4 linked regions of the Homo sapiens genome follow. The protein of the gene in region 4 interacts with the protein of the main gene of each other region in a biochemical or structural test. Each region holds a gene or a part of one and is shown on either strand. Other genes may lie near its edges. The genes, in order: EGFR, LIMS1, ERBB2 and NCK2.

Region 1 (7,246 bases), on a different chromosome or scaffold from region 4:
CATGCTTCCAGCTTTGTTCTTTTTGCTTAGGATTGCCTTGGCAATTCAGGCTCTTTTTTGGTTCCATGTGAATTTTTAAATTGTATTTTCTAGTTCTGTGAAGAATCTCATTGGTAGTGTGATAGGAGTAACATTGAATCTATAAAATACTTTGGGCAGTATAGTCATTTTAATGATATTGATTCTTTCTATCCATGAGCATGGAATGTTTTTCCATTTGTTTGTGTCATCTCTGATTTCTTTAAGCAGTGTTTTGTGGTTCTTATTGTAGAGATCTTTCACTTTCCTGGTTTACTGTATTTCTAGGTATTTTATTCTTTTTGTGGCAATTGTGAATTGAATTGCATTCCTGATTTGGTTCTCAGCTTGACTGTTGTTGGCATATTGGAATGCTAATTATTTTTGTACATTGATTTTGTACAACTGAGTCTTCACTGAAGTTGTTTATCAGCTTAAGGGGTTTTGGGTCAAGACTATGGGGTTTTCTAGATATAGGATCATGTCATCTGCAAACAGAGATAGCTGTTTTCCTCTCTTCCTGTTTGGATGTCCATTATTTCTTTCTCTCACCTGATTTATCTGGCCAGGACTTCCAATACTATGTTAAATAGGAGTGTTGAGAGAGGGAATCCTTGTCTTGTGTCAATTTTCAAGGGGAATGTTTTCAACTTTTGCCCATTCAATATGATGTTGGCTGTGGGTTTGCCATAGATGGCTAATATGTTGAGGTTTGTTCTTTAAATACCTAGTTTATTGAGAATTTTAAACATGTTGAATTTTATTGAGAGCCTTTTCTGCATCTATTGAGATGATCATGTGGCTTTTGTCCTTAGTTCTGTTTGTGTGGTGAATCACATTTATTGATTTGCATATGTTGAACCAATCTTGCATCCCAGGGATGAAGCCGACTTGATTGTGGTGGCTTAAGCTTTTTGATGTGCTGCTGGATTCGATTTGCCAGTATTTTGTTGAGGATTTTTATGTCTATGTTCATCAGAGATATTGGCCTGAAGTTTTCTTTTTTTGTTGTATCTCTGCCAAGCTTTGGTATCAGGATGACATTGGCCTCATAGAATGAGTTAAGGAAGAGTCCCTCCTTCTCAATTTTTTTGGAATAGTTTCAGTAGGAATGGTACCAGCTTTTTTTGTACATCTTGTAGAATTTGGCTATGAATCCATCTAGTCTTAGGCTTTGTTTTGGTTGGTAGGCTATTTATTACTGATTCAATTTTGGAGCTCATTATTGGTCTGTTCAGGGATTCAGTTTCTTCCTGAGGTTTTTATTTTTATCAAATGGAACTTAAGCTTTTTCATTTCCAATTTTTTTATGATCTAAAAATGTGCAGTTTACAGCCCTGTTCAGAATCTGCATCTTCCTCATTCTGCAGATACAGGTCCCTCAGAGCAGGTGACTGAGTGTGTATCCTGTCTGGAGCATAATACTTATGCTAGTAGAGTTACTGTTGTCTTTATTGTTAATTACCAAAGTTTACCACTTATCAGTCACTTACTACTTGCTGGGCATTGCACTAAGCATTTCAGTTGTATTATCTTGTTGGGTCCTTACAGCAATCCTGTGAAACAGATACTGCTATTACCCCACTTTATAGAGAGGTAGACTGAGGCTTCCAGCATTGAAGCAAATTGCCCAAGACTACAGAAATGTAGGTTTCTAAACATCAAGAAACAGTAACCAGTAATGATGACTAAAGCAAGGGATTGTGATTGTTCATTCATGATCCCACTGCCTTCTTTTCTTGCTTCATCCTCTCAGGGGTGACTGTTTGGGAGTTGATGACCTTTGGATCCAAGCCATATGACGGAATCCCTGCCAGCGAGATCTCCTCCATCCTGGAGAAAGGAGAACGCCTCCCTCAGCCACCCATATGTACCATCGATGTCTACATGATCATGGTCAAGTGTGAGTGACTGGTGGGTCTGTCCACACTGCCTAGCTGAGCCTTGGTGGCTGCTCTTAGCCAAACAGCTGAGGCCTTTGCATCCCTGGAGAAATGTCATCACATTACTTAAGGCAGGCACACAAATCCAGAAACATCTGTAAATACCCCTTCAAGCATTCTTTTAAAGACACTTCTTGACTCATTGGGCAGTATGACCTGACATTTGCCCATGTTTGCAAGCAAATAAATAAAACTAAAGTCTTCCGCAAGCCATTACACCAAAATATTCTATTCGCTGAGTTACTCAATGAAATACCGAGTTGCCCTATATTTTGAAGCCTGTTACCAGAGAGACTGAATGTTTTTAAATGCATGGCAGTGAGTAACAACATAAGGCTAATAGAGTCAACATTTCTGCTTTGACTTAAACCTTTTAAACCAGTGGATTTATGTGAAGTCTCTGCAGTGTGGCATTTAAACATTTCAATCTAAATAAGAGTGTGTAATTTGATTGATGCTATTATTCTACCAGATTCACGAGTGCAGTGGGCTCTGGAGGTAGCATTACATGCATGGGATGAGCATTTGCAAAAGAAAGTTGTATAGGGAATATGACAGAGCCAAGTTAATGTAAATATTAATGCCTTTCTGAACTCTAGGCCACAGAGTTGATCTTTTTTAACTTCCTTGGTTTGGGCTAAGGAAGCTGTGATCCAGAGAAGCCACGTGATTTGTCTAAGGTCACATAGCAGTCTGGCCTAAAATAGCTTGATATGCTGTGGATGGAAAATAAATGTGATCCCTCAAGAGGCATGAGGATTTCCAGGCAGTAGCCATACCTCCAAATTGTTTAATCTGGATTTAGATTGTTGGGTAGTCACATGCAGCAGCACAGTTAACAGTGTGTCCTCCTGTGGAAGTTGCCAGCACAGCCAGCCCTCTCACTTGCATGCATGCCCACCAGCCTTCTCACTTGCATGCATGCCCACTGGGTATGTGCTGTACTGGAGACGCCGGGGGTAGGGGCCCAGTCCCAACCCCAAATTCTTTAAAGCCTATTTTTCTAAGTTGCATCTGGTTTCCTACCTGAAGGAATGCTAAGGGTGGATGTTGAGTGAGGACCTTGGTGCAGGGCACCCTGCAGTCAGGATAGTTCATGGAGAGCAATTGTACAGACCCACACTGCTCCATCCCCTCAGGCGTAACACAGGATGCTGACCCCAGGAAGAGTGGGCGTAGAAAAACTAGAGGGCATTATTGTTATTCTGATTCAAATGTACAGTGCTGGCATGGTCTTTAAACAGTAACCAGTACTAGCTGGCCAAGACAGAAAAGTCTACCACAAAGACTTGGTTCTTTCATCACTTATTTGACTGGAAGTGTCGCATCACCAATGCCTTCTTTAAGCAATGCCATCTTTATCATTTCTTCCAGTGTTCTAATTGCACTGTTTTTTCTCATTCCTTCCCCAGGCTGGATGATAGACGCAGATAGTCGCCCAAAGTTCCGTGAGTTGATCATCGAATTCTCCAAAATGGCCCGAGACCCCCAGCGCTACCTTGTCATTCAGGTACAAATTGCAGTCTGTGCTTCCATTGGGAAGAGTCCCTCTAATGAGCATCTCATGTCACTGTGTTCTGTCACATGCCAGCCTGGCCTCCCTGTGTCCCAGATCGCATTATTAAACCCTCCAGCGCATTAGAGCAAGCCTCAGTAAGGCGCAGGCCACATCGTGAACTAAGCAGCATCCGTGAGTGGGGCCCACCCAACTCCATCTCCCCCTCCCCGTCTGAACTCTCCTCTGGTGCTCGTCCTCACTGTCCGGCTAGCCAAAGCCTCAGCTGGGTCTAAGAGAGAAGCATGGTCTATTGGGCTTTGGTGTCAGGCAGACGTGGCTTCACACCCCTGACTCTCCACTTCTTCGCATCACCCAGGCAGCCGATCCACCTATCTCCTTCCATAACACAGGAATACCAAAACCAAGCTCACAGGATTGTCTCAAAGATTCAATAAAATATGTTGCAAAATACGCTCCCTAACACCTCACAGCAAGGTGCACACTCGATGAATGCTGCAGCTTCTTCCCTTTCTGTTTCCTCAGAAGCTATTTGAATCTCATGTAGGGGCTTTCAAGCATCAAAGGATGGTTCATGTTTTATTTTAAGGCACCCACATCATGTCATGAGGGGAGGCAGCTATAATTTAGAGAACCAAGGGGGATTTCATTATAACAAAATTGGCAAACACACAGGCACCTGCTGGCAATAGACCCCTGCTCCTATAGCCAAGAAGTGGAATAGCATCTCTACGGGCCATTCTAATAGCCTCAAAATCTCTGCACCAGGGGGATGAAAGAATGCATTTGCCAAGTCCTACAGACTCCAACTTCTACCGTGCCCTGATGGATGAAGAAGACATGGACGACGTGGTGGATGCCGACGAGTACCTCATCCCACAGCAGGGCTTCTTCAGCAGCCCCTCCACGTCACGGACTCCCCTCCTGAGCTCTCTGGTATGAAATCTCTGTCTCTCTCTCTCTCTCAAGCTGTGTCTACTCATTTGAACAAATTGAATTTTAGGGAAAATAACCATCTAGTGAAACTCACATGGATATGAAGTCAATTTTAACCAAATGGTAAAATCAAAATCAAAATAAATTAAGTGTATTAATTATTTTGTTGCATTGCAACAACTTGATTGTAAGCCTTTTAGGTCCACTATGGAATGTAATTAAATCAAAACTAAACCTAGTTGCTCTAAAACTAACGATTAAGACAAAAATTAAACACCTTCACAATATACCCTCCATGAGGCACACCACCTGCATTCAGGAAAAGTGGATGAGATGTGGTACAAGCATTCCATGGGCAACTTCTCTGTTTCTTTTTCAGAGTGCAACCAGCAACAATTCCACCGTGGCTTGCATTGATAGAAATGGGGTATGTATGAACACCTTATAAGCCAGAATTTACAGCTCTCCACTATGGCTCTATTTTACATGGAAAATGCCTTAACCTAAATAATTTTAACCCAGATAATCTTGAGTTTTCTTCCTGTGTGGGTTTTTCCCTGCACGGCTGTCACGCCTCACAGTGCCGTTCAAAGCGTGACTCCTGGACCAGTAGTAGCATCGCCTGGCCTTGTTAGAAACGCCATTTTTCAGGCCACTGCCCCAGTTTGACCAAATCAGGACCTCTGGGGGTGGCACCCAGTAGTCTATGTTTGAGCCACTTTCCAGGTGATGCTGATGTCTGTTGAAGTGTGAGGCCGTGGTCTAGACCGCACTGTGCCATGCAGAAACCACTAGCCACATGTGGCTACTTCAACTTAAATGTTAATGAGTTAAAATGAAATAAAATATAAAATTCAGTTTCTCACACATGTGAAGTGTCCAGTAGCCACACGTGGCTAGTGGTGACCGTATTGAAGAGCACCGCTCATAGCACACCTCCCTCACTGCGGAAAGTTCTGCTGTACAGCACCCAGCACAGCCCTGCTGCCCACCCTGCAGCCTGTGGCCCAGTAGCACCAGCACCCACCAGGGTGCAGACTCTCAGGCCTGCCCAACCTACTAATCAGAACCAGCATCTCAAGGAGATCTCGGGTGATTTTTGCAAACACTGAAGTTGGGGCAGCCCTGACCGGAGTAACCTTCCCTCATTTCCTCCTGCAGCTGCAAAGCTGTCCCATCAAGGAAGACAGCTTCTTGCAGCGATACAGCTCAGACCCCACAGGCGCCTTGACTGAGGACAGCATAGACGACACCTTCCTCCCAGTGCCTGGTGAGTGGCTTGTCTGGAAACAGTCCTGCTCCTCAACCTCCTCGACCCACTCAGCAGCAGCCAGTCTCCAGTGTCCAAGCCAGGTGCTCCCTCCAGCATCTCCAGAGGGGGAAACAGTGGCAGATTTGCAGACACAGTGAAGGGCGTAAGGAGCAGATAAACACATGACCGAGCCTGCACAAGCTCTTTGTTGTGTCTGGTTGTTTGCTGTACCTCTGTTGTAAGAATGAATCTGCAAAATTTCTAGCTTATGAAGCAAATCACGGACATACACATCTGTGTGTGTGAGTGTTCATGATGTGTGTACATCTGTGTATGTGTGTGTGTGTATGTGTGTGTTTGTGACAGATTTGATCCCTGTTCTCTCTGCTGGCTCTATCTTGACCTGTGAAACGTATATTTAACTAATTAAATATTAGTTAATATTAATAAATTTTAAGCTTTATCCAGATACTCATAACCTGCTAACACACACACATATACACACACATACACATACACACATATACACACACCACACACATACACAGACACCACACACATACCATACACAGACACATACACATGCACACACATATACACACACACCTCAAATACATACACACCACACACACATACATGTATACACACATACACACACCACACATACACCACAAAAACCCCACACACATACACATATACACACCACACACACCACATACACACACGTATACACACATATATACACACATACACCATGCATACATACACACCACACATACATACAGACACACCACACACACGTACACACAACACACAACACAGACACGTACACACACTACAGACATGTATGCACACATACACACACACCACACATACATACACACAGACACATATACACTACACACACCATTACATACACACGTACACATACACCACACACACCACACATACACACACCACACACACATACGCCACACACACACCACAAAAACCGCACACACATACAAACATATACACACTACACCACACATACACACACACACCACACACCACACACACACATACACACACCACACACACCACACATACACGCACCACACATACACACACGTAGACACACCACACACACCACAGAAACACACATTAACACACCACATACACATATGTATGTGCATATACACACCCACACCCCACACACACATGTATAAAGATTTAGATATATATAAAACATATGTTATATATATGTTGATGTAATATCTAATATCTATATATCTAATATGTAGTTTATTAGCTATCTAATATCTATGTCATATATATCAAAATCTTTATATATAAAAATATGTAGAAATCTTTATACATATGTTATATGTATATAAAGATTTAGATATATAACATATGTAAGTTATATATATGTTAGTGTAATATCTAATATATAGTTTATTGGCTATCTAATATAATATAAACAGATTATCAATATTATAAGCTATTAGAAAAATGCAAGTTAAGGCAGATGATATACCTCTTTACACACCAACTACACACACCAACTACACACACACATACACACAGACACACACGACA
Region 2 (7,246 bases), 2.8 Mb from region 4:
TGTGCCTTGTAGTTTTGGCTAGTTTTAGTAGGATGTAATAACTAAGACTTGGACCACCATGGAAGAAGCAACTTTCTGCCTTTCAGGATTTTCCCTGATAAGAAAATGGCCAGTGCCATTATGAAGAGGGACAATGCCATGGGCCTAAGTGTATTCACACTTTTCAGTGCTCTGTGCCTGTTTGTATGGTGAGAAAATCGAACTGTTGATTTTTAAGAAAGCTAAGGAAAGTTTGGTGGTACAAAAGATCATTTCAGTTCTGGTGGTTCCGGTTTTTGCAGGCTTAGAGAAAACTGTCCATCAGGATTGTGCTGTCTTGATTTTATTTGATCATTCCCACCCTTTTCCCTTTGCTGTAGCCCCTTGACCTGTCTCCTGGGCAGTTCTTTCCTTTGCTAAATGTGAGTACAACAAGTAGGCTTTCCTTTCCTCCTAGAGAGGGGGACCTTGGAGCCCCTCCACTGGGTCAGAGAAACTTCCATAGCTGCAGCAGATCAGTAACAGGAGAGCCGAGCTTTACTCTGAAAGCCTCTATTTTCAATAATGTTGTGTTTGCTCTTTGGATAATCATTTAAATAAATAAACCTCAGTATAGGTCATGTTCTTACCTAGGTTTGCACTTAAATAGAAGGAAAAACATCTCAAACCATTTTGTTAGTTTTATAGTTCTCGTAACTACACTTTAAGCTGTGGTTTTCCACCCACAGGGATGTCATCTACATTATATGCTGGACTGTTGCCACATTGTCTTCCAAAAACTTTAATTTTAAGACACTTGAGAAGCAGGAGCTGCACTACCTGTTGCCATATACTGTGCATTCTTCAGCAACAGAGGTTTCCTTTTCACTCTTTCTGATATAATCTCATCTCTTTTATTTGATCATATCACACATTTCCACCCTGGAGCTTACTGCAGGAATGAGTAAGGGAGTCATTTTCCTGCATCTTTTTTCACGTTGGAGCACGTTTTGGAGCTTGATGAGTCTTCAGTGACATTTAACAGTGGGGCGGGACAGCTGCAGATAAAGCAAGTGCTGAAGAGTGCATTCTGTGAGAGGTAGGAAGAAAGGTGAAGGCAGTAGTTCAGCTGCTGGGAGTATGTGCTTGGCAGTGGGAGGCACGGGACTCAGCATCAGCACACCAGGAATCCAGGGCTTTCAGGATGTCTGAGTAGCAGGCAAGGTAAAGCAAGATAACAGACAACATGCATTTACAAGTAATGTTTACACATACTTTCCCTTTCTACAAAAATGGAATCATAGTCATACTATTCTGCAATTGCTTTTTTTAGTATTAAAAAAGTTACGGGAAAACATGCAAAACAAAATTTACTATTTTAACCATTTTTGAGTGTACAGTTCTGTGGCATTATGTACATTGACGTTGCTGTGCAACCATCACTACCCTTCCTTCCAAGAACTTTTTCATCTTCCCAAACTGAAACTCTGTGACCAGTAAATACCAACTCCCCATTTCTTGCAATTGCTTTTTTACTTCAACAAGCTGTCTTAGAGCGGTGTATCTGGGTTTACCTTATGTTTTTTAACCTTAGTTTTAATGGCTGCATAGTATTTCACAGTGTACATGTGATATGATTTGTACATCCAGTCCTTGACTAGTGGTTATTTGGGTTCTATTTTTTAATTATCACAAACACTTTGAACATCTCTGCCAGAGTGTTTTTTGTTTTGTTTTGTTTTTGAGACAAGGTCTCACTCTGTCACCCAGGCTGGAGTAAAGTGGTGCAATCATGGCTCACTGCAGCCTCAACCTCCTGGGGTCAGGTGATCCTTTCACCTTAGACTTCTGAGTAGCTGGGACAACAGGTACATGCCACTATGCCCGGCTAATATTTTGTATTTTTTGTAGTGACAGGGTTTCCCCATCTTGCCCAGCCTAGTGTTGAATTCCTGGCCTCAAGCGATCCGCCCTTCTCGGCCTCTCAAAGTTCTGGGATTACAGGCGCGAGCCACTGCACCCAGCTACCAGAGTTTTCATAGCTTTCTGAGTGTAGAGTTAGTATGTGCATGAGTGTTTGGGTCCATGTTCTAGTCCTAGTTCTGTCCCTTCATGGCTCTTTGACTTTGGCCCTGTCAGCGTCTTTAAGCCTCAGATTCTTAATTTATAAAATAATCCCACCTGTCTCAGAGGTTGTTGTGATAACTAAATATGAAGGCAAATGCAAATATTTCTGAAAGGATACCGATGAAATTTTTAGTGATTGTTGCTTCTGGAGAGGGAGTCTAGGCACCTGAGAATCCAGGATGAGAGGGACATTTTTTGTTGTATAGCTTTTTGTACTGTTTTGATTTTTAAAATCGTGTATGTTTTCATTTTTAAACCATTTAACACCATGCCAGGAACATAGTAGATGCTCAATGAAGTCATCATTTCCCATCATCCTGGTTCTTTTCCTCCGGACTTATACTGCTGCTAATGGCACCTAACATGGTTGCTTTTGTTTCTTCCTGTCCTTCCCTCCCTATAGCCACCTTCTTGCTGAGTTCTTACCTTCGAATTTTCTCTTGAATCCATCGTTTTCTTTTTTCACTCCTTTCTTACTGATTTCCTTTTCACCCTGGTTCTGAAAATCTTTCAAATGAACATAAGATGATAGTATTAAGACTGGGAAAGACTTGAGAGAATGCAGAGCCAGTGTCCTGTGGACTGTAAACTTATTCCAACTGGCTTGAAAAAAAAAATCTATGCACATACTAAGTGTTTGAAGTGGAACAAATGATGTTTTGTGAATGTTTCTAATTTTCATTTAACAGGTGATAAAGTACAGATTCCTTTTTTTTTTTTTTTTTTTTTTTGAGACGGAGTCTTGCTCTGTTGCCCAGGCTGGAGTGCAGTGGCATGATCTCGGCTCACTGCAGGCTCCGCCTCCCGGGTTCAAGTCATTCTCCTGCCTCAGCTTCCCAAGTAGCTAGGACTACAGGCGCCTGCCACAACACCTGGCTAATTTTTTGTATTTTTAGTAAAGACGGAGTTTCACCGTGTTAGCCAGGATGGTCTCTACCTCCTGACCTTGTGATCTGCCCGCCTCGGCCTCCCAAAGTGCTGGGATTACAGACTTGAGCCACCGCGCCTGGCTGATAAAGTACAGATTCTTTTAAAGGGTTTGTGGAATTCGTGGTAGTATTTATATAGTGCATGCTTTATCTGTTAACGTGCTAAAAAGACAATCATGGTGACATGAAGATCTAAGAAAATTTATTTAACATTTAAAAAGTGGGTTTATATGTGAAAAAGTTGGAACCTACTGAACTCATGCACTTTAGTGGGTCCCCTGCATTAGCCCTTTATTTAAATACACTGCTTCTTTATTTTACAGGACAGGATTTGCCTAGAAGGTAAAATAGTTTATTCAAGGCCGAAAGTCAGTTAACAGCAGGGTTAGGAATACAGCCCAAGATGTGGTTGTATTGTGGGGTCTCCTCTGCTATATTACGTTGGTTTGCTCTGTTACTTTATTCACATTGCATTGTTACAGTTTGTTGTGTGTATATATTTTATCTTTTTGTCTACAGTATAGAGTAAATACCTTGAGGACCAAGACCTATAGCTGAGCCCATTAACATAGTACATTTGGAAATGTCTGAATGAATTATGGATATTGGCCCAGAATTGTTCTATTACAGGTGTCCTGGATGTCAGTCTCTTTCAAGTGATTCCTTTTGAAGAACACTTCAGAAGTGTTGTTGAAGACCTGGTATTCCTAGCCACATGTGCTGGTGCTTGCAACTTTTTCCTCCCCAGAGAGATCCCTTCCTATTGACGGGCTTCCTTACCAATGCATCAGCTGAGTGACAAATGTTACCAACTACTTAAACAGATATGTTTATTTCTCATTGGTAAATGTAGCTGTTGTTTTGTTTTTGTTTGCTTACTTTTAAAGCTGGGCACATTGCTGTCCATTTTAAAATTTGCCTTGTTAATACAGTGAGGAAGGGAGGGAGAATGGACATTGGGTAGGCAGTTGCAGCTTTTGCCACAGCTAGCTGTTTCTCCTTCTCAGTGCAGTAGATTCAACAGGATTTGTTTTTCTGTGCAGGTACAGTGCAGGTGCACCTGACTGATCTGTCATCCATGTTGGTTTCAGATTTTTCTAAAGAACTACTTTGGTCACATGTTTTCAAAATATTGAGAAGCTGCTTATTGCCTGTCAAGTAGGTCCAAACTCCAGCGCCTGGAATTTAAGGCTGTTTGTGATCTGGCCCAACCCATCTTCATAGCCTTGTCACACACTGTTTCCTTAGCCTTTGTCTCTCTAACCCACTGCCTTTTTCTGAAAATGATGATTTCCTGCCTCAGTGCTGTTCATGCCCTTCTCTGGGCCTGGAAAATCATCATCTTTTGTGTTTTCTTGGCAGCTGGAACAAAATTGCCGCTTCTCTCATAAAATAACGAATTCCTGGAGCATTAATTTAGCCCCCGCTGTGTAGTAGGGAATTAGGGATTCAGAGCTTTTTCTGTTTTCCCAAAGCATTTTGAATTCTTTTTTGGTAATTACCAATTTCTGTTTTGTTTTATAGTTTTTTGTATATATGTCTAAGCTTTTCTGCCAAAGTGTAATCTCTGGAAGTAAAGGAATGTCTTAATCAAATTTGTTAAATATCCAAAGAAAAACAAGCTGCACAGTAGGCTTTATTTCTCCTTTTATTTGTTGTTAGTGAATCGAAAAGTTCAGGGCTAGCTCTGTTTAGTGTCTTTGACGTTGTTTGAATAAATTCACAAAACTTTGAGTAAAACAGGATCATTTTCTTTGGTTTAGCTTGACTCTACAGTGTATTACAGACTGCTGGCAGAGACCCAACATCATGAAACATTTAGGAGAAATTCAGATGATATTTAGGCATCCTTGTTTAGTTTCCTCCTAGGCCACTGTTTTGGAAACTCGGTTAGTCATAACCACCTTCTCTTAATTACCTACTTCCACACAAATACCTTAAGGATATTGTTTTATATAATCTTACCATCACAGCCACACCACGAAGTAGGATCTTTATATCTATTTTACAGATAAGGAAACCAAGCTCAAGAGGTTAAGAACTCACCAAGTCATACAATTAGTGACAGCTGGGATTCATACCGAAGTGCCCTGTAGAGCCCTGTGTCTCCTCACTTCATGGCACTGGTCAAGAAGAGGTCACAGCTCGCTAATTGTTTTTCCAAGTCTCAAGGCTTTTTCTTGGCATGTCCAGACAACCTATCCAGTTTTACTCCCTCCTACCCTTACGCTTATATCATCTTATTGCCAACCATACCACAGTCCTTCTTTCTGAACTTGATTTTTGTTACTCTGCTAGGAGTAGCCTTTCCTTTTTTAAGGGGGTAGGAGTTCCCAAGTCTTACAACTCAAGTCCCAGCTTAAACTCCTCTGTCTTGAAGATGACTTCCTTGGCTGCTTCAACACCTATTAGGCTTTCTTTTCTTGACCTCCCGGAGAATGCATTGGGTAAGATTCAGTTCTCTACCCAAATTTAATGTGTCTGTATTTGTGTGCAACACACAAACTTCATTATTTTTATTTGAACTCTTGGCTGTGCTTGCATATGTGAAAGTGATATTTACAAATTTTGGAACACATCTTTCAATACAATTTGTGTCCATTATATACACTGTACTATGCTATAGGGCATGGAGTATACAGCTGTAATAGAGTGAAGGACACATTGTCTAATATTGTAGCTTTGTGTGTACAAGTCCCATAAGAGACTGTTTAAAAAAGTCTTTTAGAAATTTCACTGGGCATGGTGGCTCACACCTGTAATCTCAGCACTTTGGGAGGCTGAGGTGAGAGGATCGCTTGAGCCCAGGAGTTCAAGATGAGCCTGGGCAACATAGTGGTACCTCATCTCTACAAAAAATTTTAAAATTAGCTGGGCATGGTGGCACGTGCCCGTAGTCCTGTGGCAGGCTAGGTCTCACTAATGCAGGCCTCCATAACAACTGTTTCAATACTGACTGACTGGTTAAGTGAAATAGTAAAAGCTAAACAAGTCAGTGCCCTTATCAAAGGCTGGAGTGTAACAGAAACCTACCAAGAGTTTTGCCTAGGCCTTTCCTGGGCCTTAAAGCATGAGAAAATAACAAAAGAATTCTTAACAGGACCCTTTTAGGATTAAACAAATTTTATTGTGGGTCTGAAAAAACTCCCCAAACCTCTGTGATTTAGTAGGAGACAAGGGTAATCACCTCAGCACCTGGACCCATTTAGATGAAGTAAATCTACTGAGGATCCAGAAGAAGGTCTCCAGCACTCAGACCTTAGTTATAGATTAAAAGAAGTTAATCACTTACGTCTTCAGGTGAATGCACACTTACCTGTAGACATATAGCTTAGAAGGTATATAAGCTCTGGAAAACTGCAATTTTGAGTTGGTCTGGTGATAATTTCCAGGCCTTCTCCCTGTAACTGGTTGCAGAAATAAAAACTCTCTTCCTCCCCTGTTCATCTGCATCTCGTTATTGGGCCACGAGAAATAGCAGCCCAACCCTCAGTTTGGTCCAGGAAGAGTCCCAGCTACTCAGGAGGCTGAGGTGGGAGGATCACTTGAGCCTGGGAGGTTGAGTCTTGCCACTGCACTCCAGCCTGGGCAACACAGCAAGACTCTTTCTTTCTCTGTCTTTCTCTCCCTCTCTCTTTTCTCTCTTCTCTCTTTCCCTGTCTCTCTCAAAAAAAGTAAAAAGAAATTTAAAGGAGGAAGTGGTAATTTGTTAGTAGTTATTATAGATTAGTTGTTACTTATTGAAGACATTAGGACCAGTCAAATATTATTGGATTCTTAGCAGGTAGAGGTGTATTGGTCATCGTAGGGTTCAACCAGAGGCCTGGCTTATTTGGAATGTTGTAGGGAAAATTCAAGAATCAGGGAGAACAGTGCTCTCAAAACATGGGCTGCAGACTTCTAATGGCATGGGGTTCATGCTAAAAATGCTGATTGCTCAGCCTCATCCCATACTTCTTGAGGGATGTATGTCATGAAATCTATGCTTTTTAATTTTTTATTATGGAGGATTTCAAACATATACAAAAATACAGAGAATAATATGTCTCTGTGTGTTTCTGCTCAGCTTCAACAATTATTATTTTATTTATTTATTTTTGAGGCGATGTTTTTGCTCTGTTGTCCAGGCTGGAGTACACTGGTGCTCTTGGCTCATTGCAACCTCTGCCTCTTGGGTTCAAGCGATTCTCCTGCCTCAGCCTCCCAAGTAGCTGCGATTACAGGTGCCTACC
Region 3 (8,047 bases), on a different chromosome or scaffold from region 4:
TGGTAGGGCCCAAAAGGAAGACAGGCATTGGCTGGACAGGAAGGGAGAGGACTCTGAAGTCAAGAGGGAACCTCAGGGCCCCCAGCTCAGCTCCACTTTCTACAGCCTAGAGAAGTGGATGGAAAGGTCATTCGCCTGAACAAGAGGAGCGCTTCTCCTCCCATCTGGCCACCTGCCTGCCCCTAAGGCTTTGTTCAACCCATTATTGTTGGCTGGAATAAGACTCTAACCACCTCTTAATGCCTCCTCTTCAGAGTCCAAAAATTCCCTGGACATTACTGGGTAGCTGGGAGCCTTGGATAAGTTGCTTCATTTCTCTGAACTTCCATTTTCTCATCTGTGCACCTACTTCACAGGACTGTCACAGAGATTAAATGAAAGCATGGATAAAAACCTAGCATATAGGAAGTACACCGTACATTTCTTAAAAGTTAAGACAAGACAGGTTCATACAGCAGGAATATGGGTAATCCCAAACCACGAGAAAATTAAACATGCTTTGTGTTTGACTTTGGAATGCCACGTATTTTTTCTTTTTACATTTGATCCCTATCTTTTCAATTGTTTTTTTCTTGACAAATAAAATGAGTACTTTCCCCAAGTATAGTAAAGAGAGGAGGCTGTTGGAAGAATCATACTGGAATTAAAATATGAAGGAGTTCTGCAAGATTAAAAGGATGTATTTGCTGCAATTTGTAAAACCCATACCTCTAAGAAAGGATTTCAGAAAAATCCTGACCCCTCTGGGGCTCCCCCTAGGCCTCCCCTTCCCCCACATTCCTGCCCCAGACCTCACCCCTTGGGTAAAATCTGGGTGCTGGAGGCAGCTGGGTGGTATACTTTTTTTCTGAAACGGAGTCTCACACTGTCACCCAGGCTGGAGAGCATTTGCAATCACAGCTCACTGCAAGCCTCAACTTCCTGGGCTCAGGTGATCCTCCTGCCTCAGCCTCCGGAGTAGCTGGGACTACAGGCACGTGTAATCACATCCAACTAATTTTTGTATTTTTTGTACAGAGTTTTGCCTTGTTGCCCAGGCTGTGCAATGACTTTTTAACTAACTCCTGCACAACACAATCAATAGTGCAGGTTGAGGGGTGAGGACATGAGGAGGCCCCATCCAGAGAACCCAGCCCTCAAATCCAGCTCTGCAGCAACTGCCATTCCCTGATCAACTCCCAGCCCAAGGTGAGGAAGGGCAGCAGCTCAGCCTGACAGCTCAGTATGGCCTCACCCTTCTCATCAGAAGATGAGAGGTGAAGATGCTTGTCTGGGAAACAGGGAGGGCAAGGATGTACTCCCTGGAAGAGAGGAACCTTCTTCCTCAGCAAGAAGGCGTGGCCATAGAAGGCTACCTCCCTCTGTTTATGGCAGATCTGGCCCAGCACCTTAAGGGAGTTCCTGCAGAGGACAGAGTTCAGCCTGTGTCCCCAAGTCAGCAGAGAGACTGCTGTTTGGCAACACAAAGCCCAGACACACAAATACAAAGACCACACAACTGAGGAACACCCTGGCGTAGACCTGCAGAGATAACACGGCCATGCACTCACTCACAGAGGGCCCCTCGGGCAACACACAGCCACGATGACACCCACTCCCTCCCCAGACCCTCTGACCTATGGAGACCACCCACGACTCCCAGAACACTTTCATTTTGTCTCCCCTGCAGCCCAGTGACTCAGGGAGCAGTGTCCCTCATTGCTCCAGGTGCACTCATCCATATAGCGATTTCGAATGCATGGTTGGGGGTCGCACTGCCTGGGGTCCCATCTTGACCCCACCACTTACTAGCTGCTACTCAACCTCTGGACTGCTACTCAGTCCAGAATGCTGGCAGAACTTCCACTATAGGGGTGTTCTAGGATTAAAGGAGAATGCATGCAAAACACCACAAACAGTTCCTGGCAGAGTATACCTGGCCCAGGCTATATGTTAGCTTTTATGATTAATGCACACAGGTGGACAGATGGGTCAGGATACACACTGCCCCCACTCACCCTTCCCCACGCACAGCACCAAGGAAAAGGCAGCAGAACAACGCAGCCCTCCCTAGGCTCCCATCTGGCCTTATTTCTTAGCTTCCTTCTCTGGGAACTCTCCCACTTTACACCCCAAGAAACCCACCCCCACCCCTCCATGGTCCACGCGCTCCAAAAGTCACAGAGCACAGTCCCTAAGCTGGCCCCAAGAATCTGTTCAAAGCAAACGTCTCCCCCGCCCCCAACCCAGACCCCAGCAAGAGGCCACCCTCCGGGCCACCCTTTCCTCCCCGGCTCTGGTTGGGACAGGTTGCTATGCCACCCTCCACTCCACCACACACACACACACCCGACCCCGCCAGAAGCAGGAGCAACCAAACCAAAATCGTCTGAAGGGGAGCGGGGAGGGGCTGGAGGAGGGGCAGGGCAGAGGACCCCCCCAAGGAATCCAGCCCAGGCCAGTCCGGAGGCGGAGGCTGCCAACTGGAAAGGCTTTGAGAAAGCTTGAGGGGGCTCAAGAAGGGGGGAAACGCGCGCGCGCGCTCTACGCAATACACCCTTTGCGGGAAAACTTTCTGAACAATTTCAGAGAACTTCTTTGACAAGTTCCCGGAGCCCCTCGGAGCCTGGAAAGCGCCAGTCTCTTGGATGGGCCATCTCGAGCCGCTGCCGTGTAACTGCCCCCTCCCGCCCGAGGGCCCCAGGGCCCGGCTGCCCTGAGCGTCTCGACTGTCCACAACTTCGGGATAGGAGAGCTCGTCCGGGCCCCTCTGGCCCCGCCGGCCGCGGGACCTCGGCGGGGCATCCACAGGGCAGGGTCCCGCCGCTGCTCCGTCCCCTCCCCACACCAGACCCACCTTGGGTGCTCGCGGCTCCGGGGGGCAAGAGGGCGAGGAGGAGCCCCCAGCGGCACAAGGCCGCCAGCTCCATGGTGCTCACTGCGGCTCCGGCCCCATGGCTCCGGCTGGACCCGGCTGGGAGGGCGCGGGGCGCGGGGTGCTGCGAGGGGTGGGGGCCGGGCGCGCGGCGCAGTAAAGGGCCCCGTGGGAAGGGGCGCGCGGCTGCCCGGGGGGCTCCCCTGGTTTCTCCGGTCCCAATGGAGGGGAATCTCAGCTTCACAACTTCATTCTTATACTTCCTCAAGCAGCCCTCCTCCTCCACCTCCTCCTTCTCCTGTGATTGGGAGCAAGCGCGCTCCCAGCTCGCCCCCTCCAACTGCATTCCAACAAGTCTGGGAGTGGCAACTCCCAGCTTCACTTTCTCCCTCTCTTCGCGCAGGCCTGGGTGCGTCCCTCCTAGCGCCGGGACGCCTGGGTTGCCTGCAGCCGTTCTCACACTTTTCCTCGGAGAATCCCTAAATGCAGAGGCTGGTGACTCTGCCCCCTCCCCCGGAGTCCGGGATAAATTCCCTAGGCTGCCACTCTTAACACCCTTTTAAGTCTCAGGTTTTATCTTAAACTTTCCTGGGGAGCTTGCATCCTACTCCATCCCAAGCCTATTTGTTTTAATATCAAATAATGGTTTTCCCACCACATCCTCTAGTAAAATTGATAGTCAAGGAGGGGGATGTGTTGTGTTTACCTTGTGGCTTCCAGGACCCCCGGGGCATATCTTCTGGAATCTTTGAAGTATCTGAAAAGCATGATCTTAAGAGGGTCTACAAATTTGGGAGGAGACAGTCACATCGAAAGGACTTTTTTTTTTTTTTAAACGAACTTTTGCTCTTGTTGCCCAGGCTGGAGAGCAATGGCGCGATCTCTGCTCACCACAACCTCTGCCTCCCTGGTTCAAGTGATTCTCCTGCCTCAGCCTCCCGAGCAGCTGGGATTACAGGCATGTGCCACCATGACCAGCTAATTTTTTGTATTTTTAGTAAAGACAGGGTTTCTCCACGTTGGTGAGGCTGGTCTTGAACTCCCAACCTCAGGTGATCCTCCCGCCTCAGCCTCCCAAAGTGCTGGAATTACAACCACGAGCAACTGCACCCAGCCCAAAAAGACTTCTATCTCAATTCTTCAAAATGCACCCTTCTTGCTTATTTAAGGAGGCACCCAGCACCCAATGCATTCAAGGTTTCTTCTTTGCCCCTTGCCTTCTATTAGCCTGCTTAATTCCACTTCTCAACCACATTCTATTTGGAGCCCCTGACCCTATTCCTTAGGCCTAGTGGTAGGGGTGGGGATGGAAGGAAGACTTTTTTTTTTTTTTTTAATTTCAACAAGATATTGCATGGGACATATTTATACTAACAAATTATTCATTGTTTATCTGAAATTCAAATTTAACTGGGCCTCCTTATTTTTATGTGCTAAATTTGGCAGTTCTAGTTGGAATGCCCCAGCCAAGAATGCAGCTATACTGGTCAAGAAGGGATCAAAGGCACCTATCAGGGACTGGAGAATGAAGGACACCAGCATCTCTTTCTCTCTTCCCTCCCCCCCATCTCCCACACCTCTTTACAGGTATACACTTGCATTTCTAAACTTGCTTCCATGTGCTGAGCACACTTAAAGCAGGCACCTCTTGTGGGACAGGTTGCTATGCCATCCTAGGGAGTTGAGAAACAGGGGCCTCTGGGACCAAGAGGACCTGGGTTCAAATCTTGAATCTGGCCAGTCGCGGTGGCTCACACCTGTAATTCCAGCACTTTGGGAGGCCGAGGCAGGCAGATCACGAGGTCAGGAGATCGAGACCATCCTGGCTAACACGGTGAAACCCTGTCTCTGCTAAAAATACAAAAAATTAGCCAGGTGTGGTGGCGGGTGCCTGTAGTCCCAGCTACTCAGGAGGCTGAGGCAGGAGAATGGCGTGAACCTGGGAGGCAGAGCTTGCAGTGAGCTGAGATTGCGCCTCTGCACTCCAGCCTGGGAGACAGAGTGAGACTCCGTGTCAAAAAAAAAAAAAAAAATCTTGACTCTATTCCATATCAGTCATGTCACCTTGGGCAAGTGACTGAGCATCTCTGGTCTCAGTTGGCTCATCTGTAAAACAGCATCTGACATACTATGCTGGGGTTAAAGGAGATAATGCTCTGGAAGCACTCAGCGCAATACTTGGCACATAATAATTGCTCAATAAATGGTCCCAGATTTAGTTATACTGGGGCAGATCTAGGTTTTGTGGGGCCTGAAGCTTATATAATTTGGGAAACTCTCTTTAAGAAAGTAATACAAAGTTGGCCGAGTATGGCGGCTCATGCCTGTAATCCCAGCACTTTGGGAGGCCAAGACAGGCAGATCACGAGGTCAGGAGTTCGAGACCAGCCTGGCCAACATGACAAAACCCCATCTCTACTAAAAGTACAAAAATTAACTAGGTGTGGTGGCAGGCACCTGTAATCCCAGCTACTCGGGAGGCTGAGGCAGGAGAATTGCTTGAACTCAGAGGGCAGAGGTTGCAGTGAGCTGAGATCTTGCCACTGCACTCCAGCCTGGGTGACAGAGTAAGACTCCATTGAAAGAAAGAAAGAGAGCAAGAGAGAGAAAGGAATTGAACAGAAAAAGACCCTAGCACGGCTGGGTGCGGTGGCTCATGCCTGTAATTGCAGCACTTTGGGAGGCCAAGGCAGGTGGATCACCTGAGGTCGGGAGTTTGGTACCAGCCTGACCAACATGGAGAAACCCTGTCTCTACTAAAAACACAAAATTAGCCGGGCATGGTGGCGCATGCCTGTAATCCCAGCTACTCGGGAAGGCTGAGGCAGGTGAATCGCTTGAACCTGGGAAGCGGAGGTTGCGGTGAGCCAAGATCGCGCCATTGTACTCCAGCCTGGGCAACAAGAGCGAAACTCTGTCTCAAAAAAAAAAAAAAAAAACAAAACAAAAAAACAACCCTAGCACATTCATATAGTAAGGATAAGGTGGAGTTTTGTACAGGTATCCAGAGTGATAATGTAAAATTAACTTATTCCTTGGACCGCTGTCACAAACATTCGAGAAATATTGCTGTGTATGGAACACAGCAGCCCTTCTGGATGGCCATCAATATCCCTATTTTCTCTTGAGCTGGTGTTAGGGTTAGGGTGAGGATCAGGGGAACTGAGGTAAGCAATTTGCCCAGGATGTCTTAGGGCTAGAGAGAAAAGTTGGGCATGTATCAAAACTGACCCCTTACTCTCACCCCATCATCCAGCCCAGGACCTGGTCAACCTGCCTCTCAGTCCTGCAGCTTACAGCCCTGCGGGAAGAGGATGCGCTGACCTGGCTCCAGGAGTCACTGGTTCATCACACCACACCTTGGAGGGCTTGCACCTGGATGAGTGTGCAGGCAGCCTTAGAGGCCATCGGGATGTTAGGATCAGGGTTAGAGGTGTCCTTTCTCCCCAGGCCCCACCCCTGCCCTGCTGTTGTGTCCGGAAAGGTTAGTCCAGTCAGGAAAGCTACTGTGGACGCCATGCTTCATTGGACCCTACTCTGTGCCACTCTGACCTACAGCCACGTTCCTCAGAACACTGAGTCCCCAAGACTCCAGAGGAGGCAGGTGTTATCATTCCCCATTTTGCAGAAGAGGAACCTTGAGCCTTGAGATTCCACGAGCTAAAGGAACTTTCCCAAGGTCACAGAGCTGAGCTGGGAACTGAGCCATGGCAGATTTGGCTTCACCCATTACCCTCAAGAGCCCCAGTCAAGGGTACCAAGAGGGGAGACAGAGGAAAGAAGTCCAGGTAACTGTAGGTCCCTCCCTCTACAAAGATCCTGCTTCCCCCCTTCACTCTCCACCCCCCCGCCCAAGCAAACCCATCCTCTCTGCATCCCAAATCCCAGGAAGAAACCCGGACTGGCAGACAATGCCCAGTCCCGGTGGGCGGTAGAGAGGGTGGAGCAAGCTGGAGAGGGGGCTGGAGTGGGGATGGGGGGAGGAGCTGGGGTCAGAACTCACGCCCTGGGGAGGAGGCTCGAGAGGGGCCGAGCCTCTGAAAAAGAATGAGCCCATTCAGAGCTGGGAAGCCAGAGGAAAAAACCTCGTCTGGTGTCTGACAAGAGGAGAGGAAGGGGGGCAGGGGTGGGCGCTGCTGATTCGATTTCCTCCTTAACTGTCCCTCCAGCAGGGCCTGGCAGGAGAGCCCAGGAAAGAGGATGTCTGAGGGACAAAGACAGCGAGGGGGACCCTCAGGGAAGGGAAAGGGGTGCTGGTGAGAGGGGTCTAGCTAGGGGGCTGGGGAGAGGGAGTGGGAACAGAGTGGGGCTGACTGCGGGACAGAGGGCAGCAAACTCAGATCAGGGCAGATGCGTGTGTTTTGCCCAAGACCCCAGCCTGTGGGCAGTGGAGTGACCACTGACACTGAAGAGGCAGGACAGGGCTCTAGCTTCCGAGGGTGACCTCTAAGTCAACAGGCTGGGGCTGCAACCAGCGGCCTGTGAAATGCCAGTCAATCATTGACCAGCCATGGAGACTGGGGGGCACAGGAGACGTGTGTGTGTGTGTGTGTGTGTGTGTGTGTGTGTGTGTGTGTGTGTGTGTGTGTATGCATGCACCAAAGTCTCCTCCCTCTACCTACTTCACCAGCCAGCTTGGGGTCAGAGGACTGAAAACAAACAGAAATCGGGAGGAGTCGTCTGGTCCACAGTCCGATGTCCAGGCCACAAACTGAGGCCTACCCCACAGTGCCTTGAGGCTGAGGCACAGGTTGCTGGGGAAGTGACTGTAGGAATTAGTTCATTGGAAAGAGTTCCTCAGAGTAGGCTTGAGGTGTCCCTTTGGGCCAAAGGAGGATAACTTAGAAGCTTCTGATAGGAAAATTGGTCCTTCCTAGGGGTGGCCCTTGATGAGCACTTGTATCCTAACCATGGGGAGGCCACTCCCTGAGCCCAGGATTAGCCCTAGTCTCCAGGACAGCAAAGGGGCAGAGCCAAGCTTGCCAGACACTCTGACCCTGGGCCCCTCTTACCCACATCTCAGGAATGCAGGCCCAGGCCCCAGGAGTAGCTTTTATCTCTCCCCAGGCTGCTCTGCTGAAACAAAAAGCACTCTTCTGTCCTGCGACTCACCTCACTTTTGTGCATGTCCACAACAGTACATGTCACTCTCATCACTGCCTGCGCAGGCATGGCTGCCAGGGTCTGAGTCTC
Region 4 (7,246 bases):
ATCCAGAGGGTTTGCGAGTGGCACTTCCAAATGGTTTCTGTTTCCTAAAATGAGTGATGGAAATACTTCACGGCACGTTTTCAAAGGGCCTAAGCTAAAATGTGATTTCGTGTATCTTGTTCCATGCCTGAGTTAAGGCAACTCAGAAGAAGGTCGTGACGGCCTTTTAACGGGCTATCAAAAGTGTGCAGCTAAAGCAAAAACAGTTTTGCATTTCTTTAGGCCATTTAGTAGCACAATTAAAAAATTAGACTCTTTTCTTTTCCTGCATTTTCCTTTGAACATTTCCCAAAGTATGTTTATTTCTAAAGGTAAATGAACGTTAGCAAGTATTACCTCTGCCCAGTGACACACATCCACATGTGTACTGGCACATACATTCCTACCTCAAGAATCTTAGTCCTTGAAACTGTGGAAATGAAAGTTATTTTGATTGAGGTAGCAGTGTCACAGTGATGTCATACGGTGTCACTGTCCCTGACCAGCCTCTGTGTTCCCTCTCAACTCCTTGGCTCAGTCTCCTCCGTGTCCTGAGTTCTTACTCATCCCAAGGGTCGTCTCTTACTTCTTTTCTTCCCCACATCTTATCAACTCCAAACTAGAGGGGATGGCATCATCTTTAAACTTCCACAGCACTTTCTTTGTGTCCCTGATTTGTCATCTGTGACATTCTTTCCTGCAGTTGTTTTTTTTCTTTTTTTAAGGCAGGGTTTCACCCTGTCACCCAGGCTGGAGTACAGTAGCATGATCACAGCTCACTGCATCCTCGAGCTTCTGGGTTCAGGCAATCTTCCCACCTCAGGCAATCTTCCCACCTCAGCCTCCGAGTAGCTGGGACTACGGGTGTGCACCACCATGCTCAGTGAATTTTTTTATTTTTATTTTTATTTTTATTTTGTAGAGACAGGGTCTTGCTGCTTTGCCAAGGCTGGTCTCAAACTCCTGGGCTCAAGTGAGCCTCCTGCCTTGACCTCCAAAAGTACTGGGATTACAGGCCAGAGCCACCATACCCTGCCCTATGGTTTTTTTGCCTTCATCTTTTCTTTACTAGATTCTGAACCGCTTGGGGGCAGACTGGTCTTGCCACTTATACACAATGAGTGTGCAACAAATACTTATTGAATATGTGAATAATGAGTGCCCAGCCTGTTAATATTGGGGCTCTAGCCTCCCACTGAGATTCAAGTGGTAAGAGACCTCCAGCATTCTTGTAAATCTCAGAACTTCTGTCTACTGTGGAAGGCTTTGACCTCAGGATGTCCAGACAATGGGAGAATTTGGTCTGTTGGCCTCTCTATTTGGCAAATTTTCTGTCATGTGAGTCATTTGTAGTCCTGAAGCTACATTTAAAAACAACAACAGCAACAACAACAACAAAAAAACAAAGCCAACCCCATACTCAACTGTATTACCTGGTGGGCTGGCTGAATGGTTTACTTTTGTAGGTTAGTCTGTTCCTATCAACCTGAATTCAAAACGCTGGGCAGACCGTTTGTGATCCTGGCCTGGTAAGTTAGTTATTTGTGTCACCCCTTCTTTCTACTGTTGTATTGGTAATGTTTTTAAGAGAAGAAGCTTCAAGTGCACTCAGAATTTTAAGTATTGCAGTTGCTTCTTTTGAGACAATTTTGGAAGCTGGGGTGCTTACGTTGCCAAATTGTTAGTGAAGACCGAAAATGCCATGATGAGAGAATGACATGTACTAATGCATGCACGCTCATTCATTGTTTGCAAAGTCCTCTTCACATACACCATCATATTTAATAGTCGAATAACATGGTGCACTTGGTTCTGGCCCTCATTTCTAGGTAGGAGACTGGGGATGACAGAGCTTGAATTTAGGTTAAGTCCTTCTGCAGGCCATACATGAGGAACACCAACGTGTTGCTGGGTAGAGTTGTTTTTTTGTGAGGCAGTTTACAGAACACAGTGTCCTTGGGTATCTGCCTTTGCCGTGTCGCAGCTGTGTGTAGATATTGGTGGAGCAGATTCTGGATGTGAGTTGACTGAGGTTGAGCGGTGTGAGGGGAGGCCGGCAGGAGCAATGTCAGTCTCTCTTGTCCCCACATCCTGGTTATGGGCCAGGGTTACCCTGGAAAGCCTCCTCAAGTTCAGAAAGCTTATTCCTGTTTAGTGCGTGTATTAGTCAGCTCCAGCTGCCTTAAGAGAATAACACACAGAGGCCGGGCGCAGTGGCTCACGGCTGTAATCCCAGCTACTCGGGAGGCTGAGTCACGCGAATTGCTTGAACCCAGGAGGCGGAGGTTGCAGTGAGCCAAGATCACACCACTGCACTCCTGGGTGACAGCGTGAGACCCTGTCTCAAAAGCAAACAAACACACACACACACACACACACACACACACAAAACAACAACAACAGAATGGGTGGCTAAAGCTGCAGACATTTATTTTCTCACAGTTCTGGAGGCTGGAAGTCCATGACCCCGGGGCCGGCAGGGCTGGTTTCTGGTGAGTGTCTCTTCCTGGCTCGTCTTCTTGTGTCCTCACTCACGTAGCCTTCCTTCTGTGAGTGCACTGAGAGAGAGGTCTGGTGTTTCTTCCTCTTATAAGAACATCTGTCCTGTTGGATGAGGGCCCCACCCTTATGGTGACCTTTTTTAACCTTATTTATGACCTTTTTTAACCTTAATTGCCTCCTGAAGCGTCCTGTCTCCAAATATAGTCACTTAGGGGTTAGGGCTTTACCATATGAATTTAGGGTGGACAATTCAGCCACTCCCAGTGTGTCTGTCTAGGTTCCACAACAGGGCTGATGCTTTTAGGAAGACCTGGTGCTCCCATCATCCAGATCTGGGATCTCTGTTTATTTGGGGACACCTACCAGGGATGGTTAGAGTAGTCACAAGTAAGGAGGGAACGTCAGCTCTTTATATATTGGTTGTAGCACCCCATAACAGGGAACAAGCCTTGGTGCTGGCCTTCCAAAGGCTGGAAAGGTTTTAAGTAGAGTGATTGAAGAGAGAGAAAAATCTTGACTTGATTTCATTTATGGAAACTTCTCTTCAACTTAGGTAGGTAGACACTTATTTGGGGGTTGGTTTGTCTTTAATTGAGACCATGATAAAATATCAGTGATATGCAAAGGAAAGTTTTTTCTGAACCCTGGATGAAGAGAGCAAAGCAAGAGGTGGGGCCAATGGCAGCCAGGGTGGAGAGGCCGTCTCCTCTGAGCCTGCCATCTCTGTGATCGTGCAGTCTTTGCCACATGAGCAAACATCCCTTAGCAGAATGTGCATGACGGTGGTGAGGTGCACCCTGAGCGTGGCTGGAATGTTTCTGACCTAGGCCATTTTGCCTTGTTCAGACATAAGGCAGGGGCAATGCCTGCATGACTGACCTCCCTCTAGCTCCAGATCTGTATGTTCATTGATGCTTTGTTTGCTCATTCATTCACATTCATATGAATTATCCAAGTTCTTAGTGGTCATTTCCACCATCCCAAACCATTTGCAGCTTCTCCTGCAACCTGCCCGCCTTCTCAGTTATATTCCCCATCACCGACTCACTCGGTTATCCTTGAATTCTCCCTCAGCTCCCAACTAGTTATCAACCCCTATTGATTCTACCTCCAAAAGATCTAACATCTCAGCCCTGCTGTCCTTTTTCTGTTTCCCCTGGACATCAAAACCACTTTTTAACCATTCCTGCCAATCCATCCCAGGGTGACTGCACCCTGACAGTCAGGTCTGGCCATGACCTGCACACGGTGGCTCTCCATCGTACTTGGGTCAGTGACTCAAGTCCCCAGCATGGCAGTCATGGGCTTGCACGACTGGGCTGCCTCTCTGTTTCTCCCAGCATCTAAATATCCCCTTCCCCATATACACACATGCTGAGCTACAAGTCATCTGTGGCCACCCACTGATGGTTTGCTAATTGTGATAACAAAACTAAGTTTATAATCAGTTTGTTTTTAAAGACTCTCTCCACTGGGACTGGTTCAGGGTTCTCCTGTGCAGTAATGGCAGGGCTACCCCACTACAGCTTTGCATGGAACTGAGCATGGGCCCAGCTCTCTGTCATGGGAGGAGAAGAGACTAACTGCAGAAAATGGTGCGTATGTGTGTTTTAATATGGACTGTCTCCCTGCAAATGCCATTTGAACTGATGGATTGTCAAGAGCAGTGCTGACCCCTTGAAATACAATGTGAACCACAAATGCAAGCCCCAGATGTAATCATAATGTTCTGGTAGCCACATTAAAAATGTAAAACCAAACAAGTATTATTAATTTTCATCCTATATTTTGCCCAATATATATATAAACTCTATGTGTAATCAACATAAAATGTAATTAATAAGATAACTCATATTCTTTTATTTGCGTGAGGGCTTTGAAATTCAGCATATAGTATATACGTTTACTGCACCTCTTGGCTGCCTCTCGCTGCATTTTGATTGGCCTTGGCCACACGCGACTAGTGGCAGCCTTGTTGCGGAGTGTGAGTCTATACACTTTTCATGATTTAAGCCTCATTTGCTGTCTGTTTTCCAAAGTTGAGATAGCTAAAGAGACAAAGTGGAAACAATGTAGAATAATTATAATGGTCATTATTATTATGCTTTACTGGGAAAGGTGTAACCTTTTTAAATATGAGGAGTAATGTCATCCTTCAGACACTCAGCACATGATGTTTTAGAGCACTAAAATCAGATTCAGTTAAAACTAATATCTATCATCAAAATACCTTGTTCATTTTACAAATATCTTAAAATGTGGTTTGAATTCTAGAAGTTACCAGTGTAAAATAACATTTTTGTATATCAGTATTCAACACATTTCCTTTTAAAAAATGTGTTCAGCACCATAGGAAAGGTAAAAAACAACATTGTATACAGTGATGGGGTACAGGTGTTATTTTGTTACATAAATTGCCTAAGGGTGAATTCAGGACCTTTATTGTATCCATCACTCAAATAACATACATTGTACCCATTGAGTAATCTCTCATCATCCACCCCTTCCTACCCCATCACCCTTCAAGTCTCTGGTTCCGTCTGGATAATGGCCTCCAGTTCCATCTGTGTTGCTGCAAAAGATATGATTTCATTGTTTTTTTATGGCTGAATAGTCTATTTTCTTTATCCAGTCATCTGTAGTATTCATATTTCTGATAACATGTTAAGTACAAGCTAAAATCATGTATTTTTAAAGTGAACATTAGCTTCTCTCCCACACGGACACAGACACACACACACACATTGTAATCACTGTTCTAAGCACTTTCCATGTAATAACTCATTGAGTCCTCACCAACAGAACGTGTGGTACTTTCTGTTTGTATCTTCATCGCTAAGGAAAGGGAGGCACTGAGGCTGCCATGTCTTAGGTTCCACAGCTAGACTCTGACCAAGCTAGCCACCATCCCTTCATTAAGATGTATCTGAAAATACATAAAACAGAACTGTAAACTTTTATTATGGTGTAAGATTTGAGAAACATTGATGGAAAATCATTGATAGGGAGTGTAGCTTGCATACAGGTTCATTCTGGGAACGCCTTATCAGCCAAGTGGTTGGGGAAGGCCCTGGACTTTGGAAGGGCCTAATGAATAACTGGTACCTTGGAGGAGGGGAAGCCTTGGATGGTCATCACTGAGGACCATTGGCCTGGCTGCTCCTCTCCCCCAGCCCCCTTGCTATGTTCCGTAGGCTGGTGGTCCTCCACCTGCCCAAGTCTCCAATTCTGCAGGAAACACCAGCATTCCCTGGGGAGAACCGCTGCTGGAGGGAACTGCAGTGGCACTGGATGAGGGGGAGTATTTTCTGTTGTAGTCACAGTGTATTAGCTCAAGTGGTCATGCAGGTGCCATTGTAAATGCCTGTGTGATGTGCCTCTTCATCAGTAGCTGTGTGGTGGGTCCCCACCCTTGTCTCCTCCACACTGGGGGCTGAGAAAACAGGAGTGTGTGTCTTCTCACTCTTCCAAGTGGCCCCCGGACTTTTGTGCTGTTGGAATAGCTTGCACAAGGCCATTTTTGCTGCTTCTGTTTTTCCTTAATGAGTTGCTGTTGTTGAAGTGAAGGTAGGCAGGTAGGTTCTTGCTGAAAACCTTGTAGCAGGACATACCAAATCCTTTTCCTTTGTGCTTTTATGACATCTGGGAAGGTCTTGAAGAATTCCAAGGTGGCTTTGAAATCTGCTTCTGAGGTTGTGAGAGAGGCCAGGTCAAGTCCAAATGTAGATTCTTGGGAGACTGCTGCTACAGGTCCTGATGGGAACTCTGACACTGGCTGCTCTTCCAAGTGAGTTGTCTGTGCCAGCTTCTCGAACCTACCCTTTTGTGTTAGGAGGGCCACTGGGGCCATCAGAGTGTTGAGCAGCCCTCCCTGGAGCAGATGGGACTGAGATAGGACGGTGAGTCTGGCGTCTCTGTTGGGAGAAGCTCCTGCATGTTCCAAGTTTCAGAGGGGCTGCAATTTGGGCAGTTTCTTTCAACTCACAGGTTTAGATTTGCAGTCACACTACCTCTCATGTGGCCACTTCTACACGTAGCAGGTTCCAGGATATGTGGTGGCAAAGAATTGTTTACTTCAACATGCTTAATTTCCCAGCAATGGTGGGGGCAGCCAGGAAGTGAGAAGTGAAAAGTAAGTTAGAAAGTGGTGAGATCACAGGGAGATGCCTAGAAAGACGCCCATGCCCATCTTAGAGGACAAAGTCCATCAATGTCTCCTTCGATTTTCCTTAACGGTTATGTCTCCCATTTAATATCTTAAGAATTTTGGTTGCGTGTTTAAGGATGTCTGCAAGTCAACAAATATTTTAATTATGTCACTTATGAGCCTGGCTACAGGAGAGGAGAGCAGTTGCTGTCTCTTTCATGCTTTCCCTCTCATCAGCTGTCTTCATTTTAAGGACAATCACTTTAAAAGCTTGTATTCCTGTTTGTGTGTGTCTGTGGGAGGTTGGGGGGAGCTGCTGCATTGGTAAGAAAGCAGCTCCCCCAACAACTTTTTTTTTTTTTTTTTAAACTGCTCTGCATGATGGAAGCCAGCTTGGAGACATTGACATAAAAAGCACAAGCTACTTGAATATTTTTAAGAGACCAAGAAATAACAAGGGATTCAGGGAGTTATTTTGAGACAGTTTTTGGGAAATTTAATATAGGTGAAGAGTGAATTTTCATCAAACGATTAAAAAAAAGTGAAACAACCTTGGTTGCAGAATCTAGCAAGATGGTTATAGAAACAGATTTTTTTTTTCCAGCCATTTCCATTCTT

Evidence for each region.
Region 1: the proteins of NCK2 (region 4) and EGFR form a complex in vitro, tested with the Homo sapiens proteins (2 studies listed by BioGRID).
Region 2: the proteins of NCK2 (region 4) and LIMS1 form a complex in vitro, tested with the Homo sapiens proteins (4 studies listed by BioGRID and IntAct, with this or other methods).
Region 3: the proteins of NCK2 (region 4) and ERBB2 form a complex in vitro, tested with the Homo sapiens proteins (2 studies listed by BioGRID and IntAct, with this or other methods).

The regions. Positions count from the first base shown.
Region 1 is NC_000007.14:55,196,943-55,204,188, forward strand, and holds part of EGFR (epidermal growth factor receptor isoform a precursor), read left to right. Parts: intron 1-1,774; coding exon 1,775-1,921; intron 1,922-3,373; coding exon 3,374-3,471; intron 3,472-4,245; coding exon 4,246-4,413; intron 4,414-4,792; coding exon 4,793-4,840; intron 4,841-5,574; coding exon 5,575-5,683; coding exon of another isoform or gene 5,684-5,823; exon of another isoform or gene 5,824-6,134; intron 6,135-7,246. UniProt on the Homo sapiens protein: Receptor tyrosine kinase binding ligands of the EGF family and activating several signaling cascades to convert extracellular cues into appropriate cellular responses.
Region 2 is NC_000002.12:108,537,401-108,544,646, forward strand, and holds part of LIMS1 (LIM and senescent cell antigen-like-containing domain protein 1), read left to right. Parts: intron 1-7,246. UniProt on the Homo sapiens protein: Within the IPP (ILK-PINCH-PARVIN) complex, binds to F-actin, promoting F-actin bundling, a process required to generate force for actin cytoskeleton reorganization and subsequent dynamic cell adhesion events such as cell spreading and migration.
Region 3 is NC_000017.11:39,695,101-39,703,147, reverse strand, and holds the start of ERBB2 (receptor tyrosine-protein kinase erbB-2 isoform a precursor), read right to left. Parts: upstream 3,085-8,047; 5' UTR 2,910-3,084; coding exon 2,837-2,909; intron 359-2,836; exon of another isoform or gene 234-358; intron 1-233. UniProt on the Homo sapiens protein: Protein tyrosine kinase that is part of several cell surface receptor complexes, but that apparently needs a coreceptor for ligand binding. Essential component of a neuregulin-receptor complex, although neuregulins do not interact with it alone.
Region 4 is NC_000002.12:105,747,702-105,754,947, forward strand, and holds part of NCK2 (cytoplasmic protein NCK2), read left to right. Parts: intron 1-7,246. UniProt on the Homo sapiens protein: Adapter protein which associates with tyrosine-phosphorylated growth factor receptors or their cellular substrates. Maintains low levels of EIF2S1 phosphorylation by promoting its dephosphorylation by PP1.